2 separate regions of the Homo sapiens genome follow, and region 2 is linked to region 1. Evidence: fine-mapped expression QTL. A gene starts in region 1. The other region holds a variant in brackets. All regions are shown on one strand. Distances are between the middles of the regions. Region 1 holds the start of USP33 (ubiquitin specific peptidase 33). Region 2 overlaps ZZZ3 (zinc finger ZZ-type containing 3).

What was found. PIP is the estimated chance that this variant, and not a neighbour inherited with it, causes the effect. A credible set is the group of variants that fine-mapping cannot tell apart.
Region 2: its variant is the best candidate, but not a certain one, in a credible set for the expression of USP33 in blood mononuclear cells (TOPMed, PIP 0.75).

Annotation. Positions count from the first base shown.
Region 1 is chr1:77,757,042-77,762,041 of GRCh38, forward strand. It overlaps USP33 (ubiquitin specific peptidase 33), which reads right to left and starts at 2,811. Exons shown (of 24, transcript NM_201624.3): 1 at 2,602-2,811. RefSeq lists a silencer at 2,721-3,000.
Region 2 is chr1:77,651,451-77,656,977 of GRCh38, forward strand. The region is part of intron 1 of ZZZ3 (zinc finger ZZ-type containing 3); the gene reads right to left. Among named protein-coding and RNA genes, the nearest start is that of ZZZ3, 28 kb to the right of the region's middle. The variant G/A (reference allele first, on the strand shown) is at 2,204.

The DNA.
Region 1 (5,000 bases):
CCGATGTTTTCTCAAATGTAAGTTGTACCCTTCAAGGAGCTCATTAATCTGTTCACATTACAAATATCCTCCAATATTTACCTTTCAAAGCTCACTCATCTCAAATACTACCTTCACCAAGCCCCAATCACAAGTAATGTCTACCTCACCTAAATTCCTAAGGAACTTTTATAAAAACTCATAAGGCATTTACTGTTGTGTAAAAAATTGCCTCACTTGACTACAAGTTCTTTGAAGGCAGAAACCACGTTTCATTCTTTTTGTTTTCCAAAGGGCCTTGTCCTGGTAGACTCAAAATATTGACCTAACTTAACCTTCTGAACATTTGACAGCATGATTTATTTTGATATACATATTGTTTCTTAAAGACTAGTTCTCAGTATACAATATAGCACATAATTCATGTGCCTTTTTATAGATAGTTAAAAGCAACTGTACTCATCTCACACTCTTTGGAGTTTTCCCACTTATCAAAATGTTCCTGCAGACACATGTACACTTTTAAAGTTTAAAAACTACACTAAATAGAGCTGTTACTTATTCCCTTCCTTTTTAGAAATGGTTACATTTCACATTTCTCACCAAAAATCTTTCAGCATTTTATGTACTTCATTTTCTTGTGAAGAGTCCACAGTCTTGTCATATGTTATAGTTCACAGTGCTCCAATCTTAATCTATCTGAATTCCCAATCTGTATCAAAAGCTGCTTTGGCAACATTATTTCAGGCTTTACGAAATTCTGATCCTTACACAATCTTGAAATGTTTCTGTCATGGGGAAAGACTTTATTTCTTGGCATTCGGAGCTCAGAGGACTGGCATGAGGATCAAGTAAGACTGTGTAAGTGAAAGGTCACAGAAAATTCTAATACTACTACATAAATGTAAGAATTATCATCTCAATTCTGAATTTCAAATATTTAAAATCACCTATTTACTACAATCTAATGTCATTAAACTGCAGTTATATAAAAAGACTTGCTTACTGTTAAGTTATAAAAAGTTCAGAAAAGACAGAAAAAAAGTGAAACTGGCCATAAACCAGATCATAAATAGGAAGCAATCTTAAGTAGACTATCCCTCTTGCACATATCAGGTCAAATATTTTATTCCAATAATATTTTTTGTACTGTCCTTTTTTTTTTTTTTTTTTTTTTTGAGACAGAGTCTCGCTCTGCTGCCCAGGCTGGAGTGCAGTGGCATGATCTCGGCTCATTGCAAGCTCTGCCTCCCGGATTCACGCCATTCTCCTGCCTCAGCCTCCCAAGTAGCTGGGACTACAGGCACCTGCCACCATGCCCGGCTAATTTTTTGTAATTTTTAGTACAGACGGGGTTTCACCGTATTACCCAGGATGGTCTCGATCTCCTGACCTCGTGATCGTCGGCCTCCCAGAGTGCTGGGATTACAGGCGTGAGCCACCGTGCCCAGCCCTGACCTTTCTTTCAATCCTGCCAAAGTAATGAAATAATACAAAGCTCCTAGCATTGTGTAACTATTTCTATTATTTTTTCATAAAACTAGCATTGTCTTTAAGATTCCTATTTTCTCTCTTATTTATAATAGTATGAATTCACTAACAATATTTGTATTATGCTCAAATCAAATAGCCTATGACGATAATGTGACTTGGTCAGACCTTTCCAAATAAGACAGTAGGAAAAACGGAACTAGGACGGCCTTGTTACTTTTTGTAACACGTTTTTCTTAAAGGAAAAATAATCTGATTAAACTTAAAAATTCTCTACATCCACATAGTTATTAAGCAAAAGGCCTAGAGATCGTTACGGTAAAATTCACCTTCAATTTAAGTCTATGCTCCTGCCAGAATTTCACCCTCTGGCTCAATTTTCCAGGCCTAATACTGATTCTATGAGAATGTAAACTCCAACGGTACTTGAGTGCAAAACACCCAGGAAAATCTCATCGTCCAAGAGCTCAACGTAAAACCCTGTAAATATTCAAATGAAGAGCGTTTTGTATACGAGAAATATAAGTAAAGGTCTGGGAAACCACACACTATGGATCTTTCATCCAAACAAAGGCTGCAGATGGACAGAAGGTAAGGGGTAACCTCTCAGTCAAGATCAAACATTGGTCGAAGAAAAATTCCAGGGACGATGACACCTCGGTTTTTCCGTTCACAACAACAAACAACGGGGCCGGCCCCCTCAACAGCGCCGAAAAGCGAAACCAGAACCCAGGAGCCGGCGCGCTGCAGGGCTTTCAGTCACCCACTGAGAGGGACTGGCAAGCCTGAGTGGGGAGACCGAGGAAGGGAGCAGAGCCCCCGCTTCTCGGGCTCACCTGCACCTCCCGCTTCCAGGGAAGAACCCCTGAGGACCCTTCCTCAAATCAACGACCGGTTCCCATCCTCCACCGACCGTTGACAGGGCGACCACTAGATTATCTCTGCAACGCAGAGCACCGAGGGGCCAAGGCCTTCTTCCCGCCCGCGAACCCGCCGCCACCCAGGACCAAGAAAAAGAGGCTGCTGCAGCGGCCGCAACCCCAGCGCGCGGAAGCGAGAACAGAGACCGGACCCCGGACGCGAGCGAAACGCCCTTGGGCCCCGCGCCCCTCCCAGCAGCGCCGCGCTCACCTCCACGGCCTGGCCCGCGGGACCCGCCAGCTCGACCAACAACGGCCTGCAGCCGCACCTCCGCAAGCTCCTCTTTTCCTTCTCAGCTCTCGGAGAGGGGCAGTGTCGCGTCAGGAGGGCCGGAAAACGGCCCCGCAGCGCTGCCCTCGGGGGGTCCGCCTCCTGAACTGGCCACTTCCCGCAGCAGCCGCGGCTCCTTCCGGTGTCTCCGGGGCCGCCGCAGGCGTCTCCGGCGATAGGGGAGGTGGGGGCGGAGCCTCGATGGGAGCCCGCCCCAGGGGCGGGGCCACGGGAGCCAGGCCCAGGTGCGGGGACCCAGGCCGGCTCCCTACTCTGACTGCAAACTAACTGTACAGGGTATGTGCAGCAGTTTGAGGCTGTGAGCTTTTTTTTTTTCGTTTTTCACATGTTTTCTCCTTCTCTTTCACAGTCACACACTACGACCATTATAAGGTCTTGTCTCGATGCATTACAAAAACTGCATTAAGGCTGGCCACTGAAGGGCCTCAGGTTTCCAAACTTGAGCAAAGAAATATTAGACTTAACTTATCCCAATTCAACATTGTATTTCCTCCTTTCATCTTTCTTCCCCCAACTTCTTAGGACCTAGATTCTCTGAAAGCAATTATGTTTCCCTTTTCCACCTATGCAAAGAAGAAATTTATCTCACCATTTTCTCCTTAGGCTAAAATCAAGAGGATCAAATCAAATATTTATTGAAACCTTAGTATCTGCTTAATGCCTGGAGCATGGAAGGAGTCCTGCCTTCTAATTATGTAACTGTTAAAATGCACTCGATTGAGGTTCAAATCTATGAATAAAAAAGGTTATATTAATAAAAAATTGTTAAAATTGCCAGTTTCAATCTGTCTCATGACATCTGACTTTTTGGTCTCCAAAATGGGAGCATGTACCAAAGTATCATGCAAGATGCTCAGTCTCCATTGGAATAGGTAGAAAATATAAAAGCTTCTACTTATTTTTATGGTAAAAATGAAATAAATTAACCATGATACAAAATTCTAGGTAGGGATTGACACTCAGGCCTCAATTTGCACCACAAATGATTGCCTATCCTCGGTTCACTGAGGAGAATAGAAATTTCACAGAATAGAAGTTTCACAGGCAGGCGCCATGGTTCATGCCTGTAATCCCAGCACTTTGGGAGGCCGAGGCGGGTGAATCACTTGAGTTCGAGACTAGCCTGGGCAACATGGCGAAACCCCATTTCTACTAAAAATACAAAAATTCGCCAGGCATGGTGACAGGCACCTGTAGTCCCAGCTACTCAAGAGGCTAAGAGTGGAGGATCACTTGAGACCAGGAGTTTGAGGTTGCAGTGAGCCATGATTGTGCCACTGCACTTCAGCCTGGGTGACAAAGTGAGATATTCTCTGGGAAAAAAAAAAAAAGATGCCGTTAGGAGATGAAAAGTTGTCTCCAGCCGGGCACAGAGCCTCACACCTGTAATCCCAGCATTTTGGGAGGCCAAGGCGGGTGGATTACCTGAGGTCAGGAGTTCAAGACCAGCCTGACCAACATGGTGAAACCCCCATCTCTACGAAAAATACAAAAATTAGCCAGGTGTGGTGGCGCGTGCCTGTAATCCCAGCCACTCAGGAGGCTGAGGCAGGAGAATTACTTGAACCCAGGAGGCAGAGGTTGCAGTGAGCCAAGATAGAGCCACTGAACTCCAGCCTGGGCAACAGAGGAGGACCCTGTCTCAAAAAAAAAAAAAAAAAAAAAAAAAGCTGTCCACAGAGGAGATCTACAGAAGAAAAAAAAAGAAGAGAGACAGAGAGAGAAGAAAAGTTAGGCCAGCAAATAGAATTTATTTGAAATACATATAATTGAAAAGGGGCTCAACTCCATATGTATTTCCAGAAATCAATTTTTAAAAAAACAGGCGACCAAATAGAAAAATAGACAAAAGTCACTTCCCCAGAAATTCTTCTATTGAAAATGTATCAGGGGTATTCTGTTCTTACAGTGTCCTAGCAAATTCAATTCAGCCTCCAAGTCCCACCACCATCCTGCTTAGTAACCAAGGTTCTCTCTGGGCTTACCTGTCCTGGAGGAGTTCTAGGGCAGTGTCAATGCAAGGAAGACAACTGACAAGGCTGTTCAAGATCACCAGGTGCGGTGGCTCATGCCTGTAATCCCAGCACTTTGGGAGGCCCAGCAGGGCAGATCACCTGAGATCGGGAGTTTGAGACTAGTGCGTAGATAATAGTAGGCAAGTACTTCTCAGGTGGACACCAAGTGAAGTCCTTGCAGTGGACAAGTTCTCACAAAACAAACTCACTCTGATAGAATATAATGTAATACCTCTCCCACTTTTAACTTCCGTGAATTCCTGCCTCCCACCCTTGGGTGTTTATCCTTTCATCCCACAGTCC
Region 2 (5,527 bases), 110 kb before region 1:
GTTTATTACATATGATGCTAAAAGCATAACCAACAAGGACAAATGTGTGATTCCAATTACTACGTGAGTTTATCTAAAATTGTCAAATTAATAAAAACAAAAAACAGAATGGTGGTTGCCAGGGACTAAGGGAGGGGGAAATGTCACGTCATTGCTTAATGAGTACAGAGTTACAGTTATGCAAAATGAAAAACATTCTGGAGATGGACCACAGTGATGGTTACACACAATGTGAGACTATATTTAATGCCACTAAACTGTAACCTTTAAAAATGGTTAAAATGGGGCTGGGCACGGTGGCTCAGGCCTATAATTCCAGCACTTTGGGAGGCCAAGGCAGGCAGATCACAAGGTCAGGAGACAGAGAACATCTTGGCCAACATGGTGAAACCCCGTCTCTACTAAAAATAGAAAAAATTAGCTGGGCGTGGTGGCGTGCATCTGTAGTCCCAGCTACTCTGGGGCTGAGGCAGGAGAATCACTTGAACCTGGGAGGCAGAGACTGCAGTGAGCCAAGATTACACCACTGCACTCCAGTCTGGGCGACAAGAGCAAAACTCCATCTCCAAAAAAAAAAAAAAAAGGTTAAAATGGTAACTTTTACGTTACATATATTCTGCCACAATTAAAACATAAAAATTCAAAAAGCACAAGCAACCAAAGAAAAATACAGATAAATGGGGATCATCAAAATTAAAACCTTTTGTGCTTCCAAGAACTCAAGAGAATAAAAAGATAACCCATAGAATGGGAGAAAATATTTGTAATTATCTCTCTATCTATAAAAACCCTTACAACTTAATAAAAAGATAAACCTAATCTAAAAATGGGTAAAAGACTTAAACAGATATTTCTGCAAATAAAATATACAAATAGCCAATAAGCACATGAAAAAATGCTCAATATCATTAGCCCTCAGGGATATGCAAATCAAAACCACAGTGAGATACTTCACACCCACTAGTATTGCTATAATAAAAAAGACAACAAAAACATGTGTTGGCAAAGATGTAGAGTTATTTGCACCCTCATACATTGCTGGTAGGAATGCAAAATGGTGCAGCTGCTTTGGAAAATAGTTTGGCAGTTCCTCAACAAGTTAGACATACAATTACCATATGACCCAGAAATTCCATTCTTAGGTATACACCCAAAAATAAAGGAAAACATATGTCCACACAAAAACATGTACAAAAATGTTCATAGCAGCATTATTCATAATAGTTATAAAGTGGAAGCAACTTAAAGGTCCATCAACTGCTGAGTGAATAAACAAAACAAGGAATATCATATCAACACAATGAAATACACTTAAGCCATAAAAAACAGTGAGGTATTGACAAATGCTGTAACATGGATGAACCTTAAAAACATTATGCTAACTGAAAGAGGTCAGTCACAAATGGTTACATATTGTAAAATTCCCATTTATATAAAATACCCTGAATAGGCCAGGTGCAGTGGTTCACACCTGTAATCCCAGCACTTTGAGGGGCCTAGACAGACAGGAGGATCACTTGAACTGCAGGAGTTCGAGACCATCTTGGGCAACATGGTAAGACCTTGTTTCTACAAAAAATTAAAAAATTAGCCAGGTATAGTTGCACATGCCTGTAGTTCCAGCTACTCAGAAGATTGAGGCAAGAGGACTGCTTGAGCCTGGGAGTTTGAGGCTGCAGTGAGCCACGATTGTGCCACTGCACTCCAGCCTGGGCAAAAGGGCAAGATTCTGAAAGAAAAAAAAGGCAGGCAGGCAGGCAGGAAGAATCCAGAATAGGCAAATCCATAGAGACAAAAAGGAGATAAGTGATTGCAGAGACTGTGGGAGGGAGGAAATGGTAGAAAGTGAGTGCTATAGGTATGGGGTTTCTTTTTAGGGTGATGCAAGTATTCTGCAATTAGGTACTACTGATGGTTGTCCTACTTTGTAAATATACTAAAAATCACCAAATTGTATAATTTAAAAGGGTGATTTTTATGGTTAAGTGTATATCTCAATGTTTTTAAAAGATAAGAGAATCGGCCAGGCGCGATGGCTCACGCCTGTAATCCCAACACTTTGTGAGGCTGAGGTGGGTGGATCACCTGAGGTCGGGAGTTCAAGACCAGCCTGACCGACATGGAGAAATCCTGTATCTACTAAAAATACAAAATTAGCCAGGCGCAGTGGCACATGCCTGTAATCCCAGCTACTCGGGAGGCT[G/A]AGGCAGGAGAATCACTTGAACCTGGGAGGCGGAGGTTGCGGTGAGCCTAGATCGTGCCATTGCACTCCAGCCTGGGGAACAAGATTGAAACTCTGTCTCAAAAAAAAATTAAAAAAGATAATATTACAAATAACTTCATGTCAATAAACCCAACTATTTAGATGAAATGGACACATTCCATGAAAAACTGCAAATTCCCCAAAACTCACTCAAGAAATTATTTCTTAAATATCCTTAAAGAAAGTGAAGCTAGGCCAGGCACGGTGGCTCACGCCTGTAATCCCAGCACTTTGGGAGGCCAAGGCGGGTGGATCAAGAGGTCAGGAGGTCAAGACCATCCTGGCTAACACGGTGAAACCCCGTCTCTACTAAAAATACAAAAAATTAGCCAGGTGTGGTAGCAGGCGCCTGTAGTCCCAGCTACTTGGGAGGCTGAGGCAGGGGAATGGCGTGAACCCAGGAGGCGGAGATTGCAGTGAGCTGAGATGGCGCCACTGCACTCCAGCCTGGGCAACAGCGAGACTCCATCTCAAAAAAAAAAAAAAAAAAAAAAAGTGAAGTTATAGTTAAAAACTTGGCAAAAATAAATTCCAGGCCAAGGTGAGTTCACTGGTAAATTTTAACTATGCCACTTGATATACATTTAAGGAAAAAAATAATCCTAATTCTACCCAAACTCTTCTAGAAAACTGAAGAGGAACATTTCCCAACTCATTCCATGAGGCCAGGATTAGTCTGATTTCAAAACCAGACAAAAAAATTACAAGAAATTTGAACTACAAACCTATATTCCTCATAAACATAGATGTAAAACTCCAAACAACTTTTTAACAAACCAAATATAATAATATTTTTAAAATAATACACCATGACCAAATGATGTTTATCCCCAAAATGTAAGACTGGCTTACATGTACATAAGGTTGGTTCAATGCAATTCACTCTATATTAACAGACTGAAAAAACAAAACCGAAAAGAAAAAATAGGAAATAAACATAACTGGCCCTTTTGACATCAGGCCTTACATATTGCCTTATGTTTGGTACCCACGCCTCTCCATAGATAGATGGATATCTTTTCCATCTCTATGAAGCTTACTCCTTTTTCTATGCTTATAACAGAATACCAGAAATTGGGTAATTTGTGGAAAATAAATTTCTTCCTTTCTTTCTTTTTAAATAGAGACAAGTTCTATGTTGCCCAAGCTGGTCTCGAACTCCTGTACTCAAGCAATCCTCCCACCTTTGCCTCCCAAAGTGCTGGGATTACAGGTATAAGCCACCACACCGAGCCAAGAAATTTATTTCTTACTGTTACAGGGGCTGAGAAGTCCAAAGTCAAGGAATTGTCTCTGGTGAGAGCCTTCTTGCTCATGAGGATTCTCTGAAGAGATTTGAGGTAGCACAGAGCATCACAAGGTGAGAAGGCTGAGCGTGCTAATGTGCTAGCTCAGGTCTCTCTTCTTCTTATAAAGCCACCAGTTCCCCTCCCATGATAACCCATTAATCCATTAACCAATTAACCCATTAATCCATTCATGAGGGCAGAGACTTCATGATCCAATCACGTCTTAAAGGTCCCACCTCTCAATAGTGCCACACTGGGGATTAAGTTTCAACATGAGTTTTGGATGGGACATTCAAACCATAGCATATGATAAGCCAATAAAAGAGTTAATATTTATATAATGTGATCAAGTAAAGGGTTTTTAAGATCAAAATTAATTTTCTTCTAGAATTACCTTTACTTTGATTGGGTTTAGTCAAGTTTAAGCCCCTTCAGCCATGTGAAGACACAGTGAGAAGATGGCCACTTATAAACCAGGAACTGGGCCGTTGCCAACACTTAATCTGCCCTTGGACTTTTCAACCTTCAGAACCATGAGAAATAAATGGCTGTTGTTTATTTGCTACCCAGTCTATGGTTTTCTGTTACAGCTGCCCAAACAGACTAAGACAATAGCTAATGAGACAGACAAACAGACAAGGCAGATAGATAAAACTCTCCTTCAGGTAGCAACAAATAAAGCTGAATTTGTCAGCAGTAGAGCAACAGAAGCAGAGCACTAATATGACATCATTTAAACGTACTGACTTAGCTCAGCCTGAACCAGACAAACACCCTGGACTTTTCAGTTCCAAAAAATCCCTTTGTTGATCTATGACTTAGAAGAAGAAATGAGATGAGAAGGCACCATATATCATTCTTAGGTCCAAACCAGCTTGTTAAATCCTGGAACAGACTAACTTGAAAATGATTATTGGACTAGCAAGACTGATTCATTTCAAGATACATTAGTTTAGCACACACAGTGTACTATGTACTTATCATTAAGACATAATCTCAGCTCTGGACAGCCATTCATCTTCAATGGACATTCATAAATGAAGCATAAATAATTCAGCAAGGCCTAGGTGAAATGCCTGATGTAAAGATCCATCTATATATTTAATTTTTACAAATGTTTCCCTTTCATCAACTTACAGTTTTCCTCACAACAATATATTTTATAGCTGCCTAACTGTATACTGCATTTTGAAAATGCTTACAAAAAATTTTAATTCTTGGCTTGCTTTAAATATTTTTTAAATTTGTCAGTTAAATTTAGGAAAAAAGTCAAAATTTCCATTAATTTTATTTAGTGATACTTATCCTTAAGGATGTTATTTAATGTCAATTTTTTTTAAGGCCAGTGACAGGTAATAAATAAATGACTACTTAATCCTCTCTAAAAGCCATGCTCCATCTGTCTTAAGAATTCTCAATGGTTTCTGTCAACACAACAATCAAAAAGACTAGGAAAAGTCTTAAAAGCAAATAAAATAATCTAAAGGAGACGGATCAAGGTAAAGATTCACAATGAGTTAGGATATTTTACCATTTCTCATGGGACAGAGTCCTCCCTGAAATATCTTTTGATATCAAAGTCAAGGTCTGAATATCAAAATATTGAGACCTTGAATCTTATCAGATATGCACCATTGCTCTAAATTCTTGAATTTGTACTGTCTTCAGAGGGCACAAAAATTTTTACCAGCATATTAACCAACCTCTAAGCTGGACTCTCCGTCACCTCTAAGAATCTACAGGACAGGTAAAGCAGTTCCCAAGCTAGTTTCAGTATTTCAAAATCCCTAAGTGCCATAACAGATCATATATAGTTGATTCTCATAAAGTTGCCATGAGCACTGAATTATCAAATACTCAATACAAGAGAAATTCAGAGTGAAGTTCCTGCTAGCCTCTGACTAAAACATTTTCAACAGCCTAACAACACATATCCTTGTTTTATCTGTACTTTTATTTAAAAACACTTTTATTT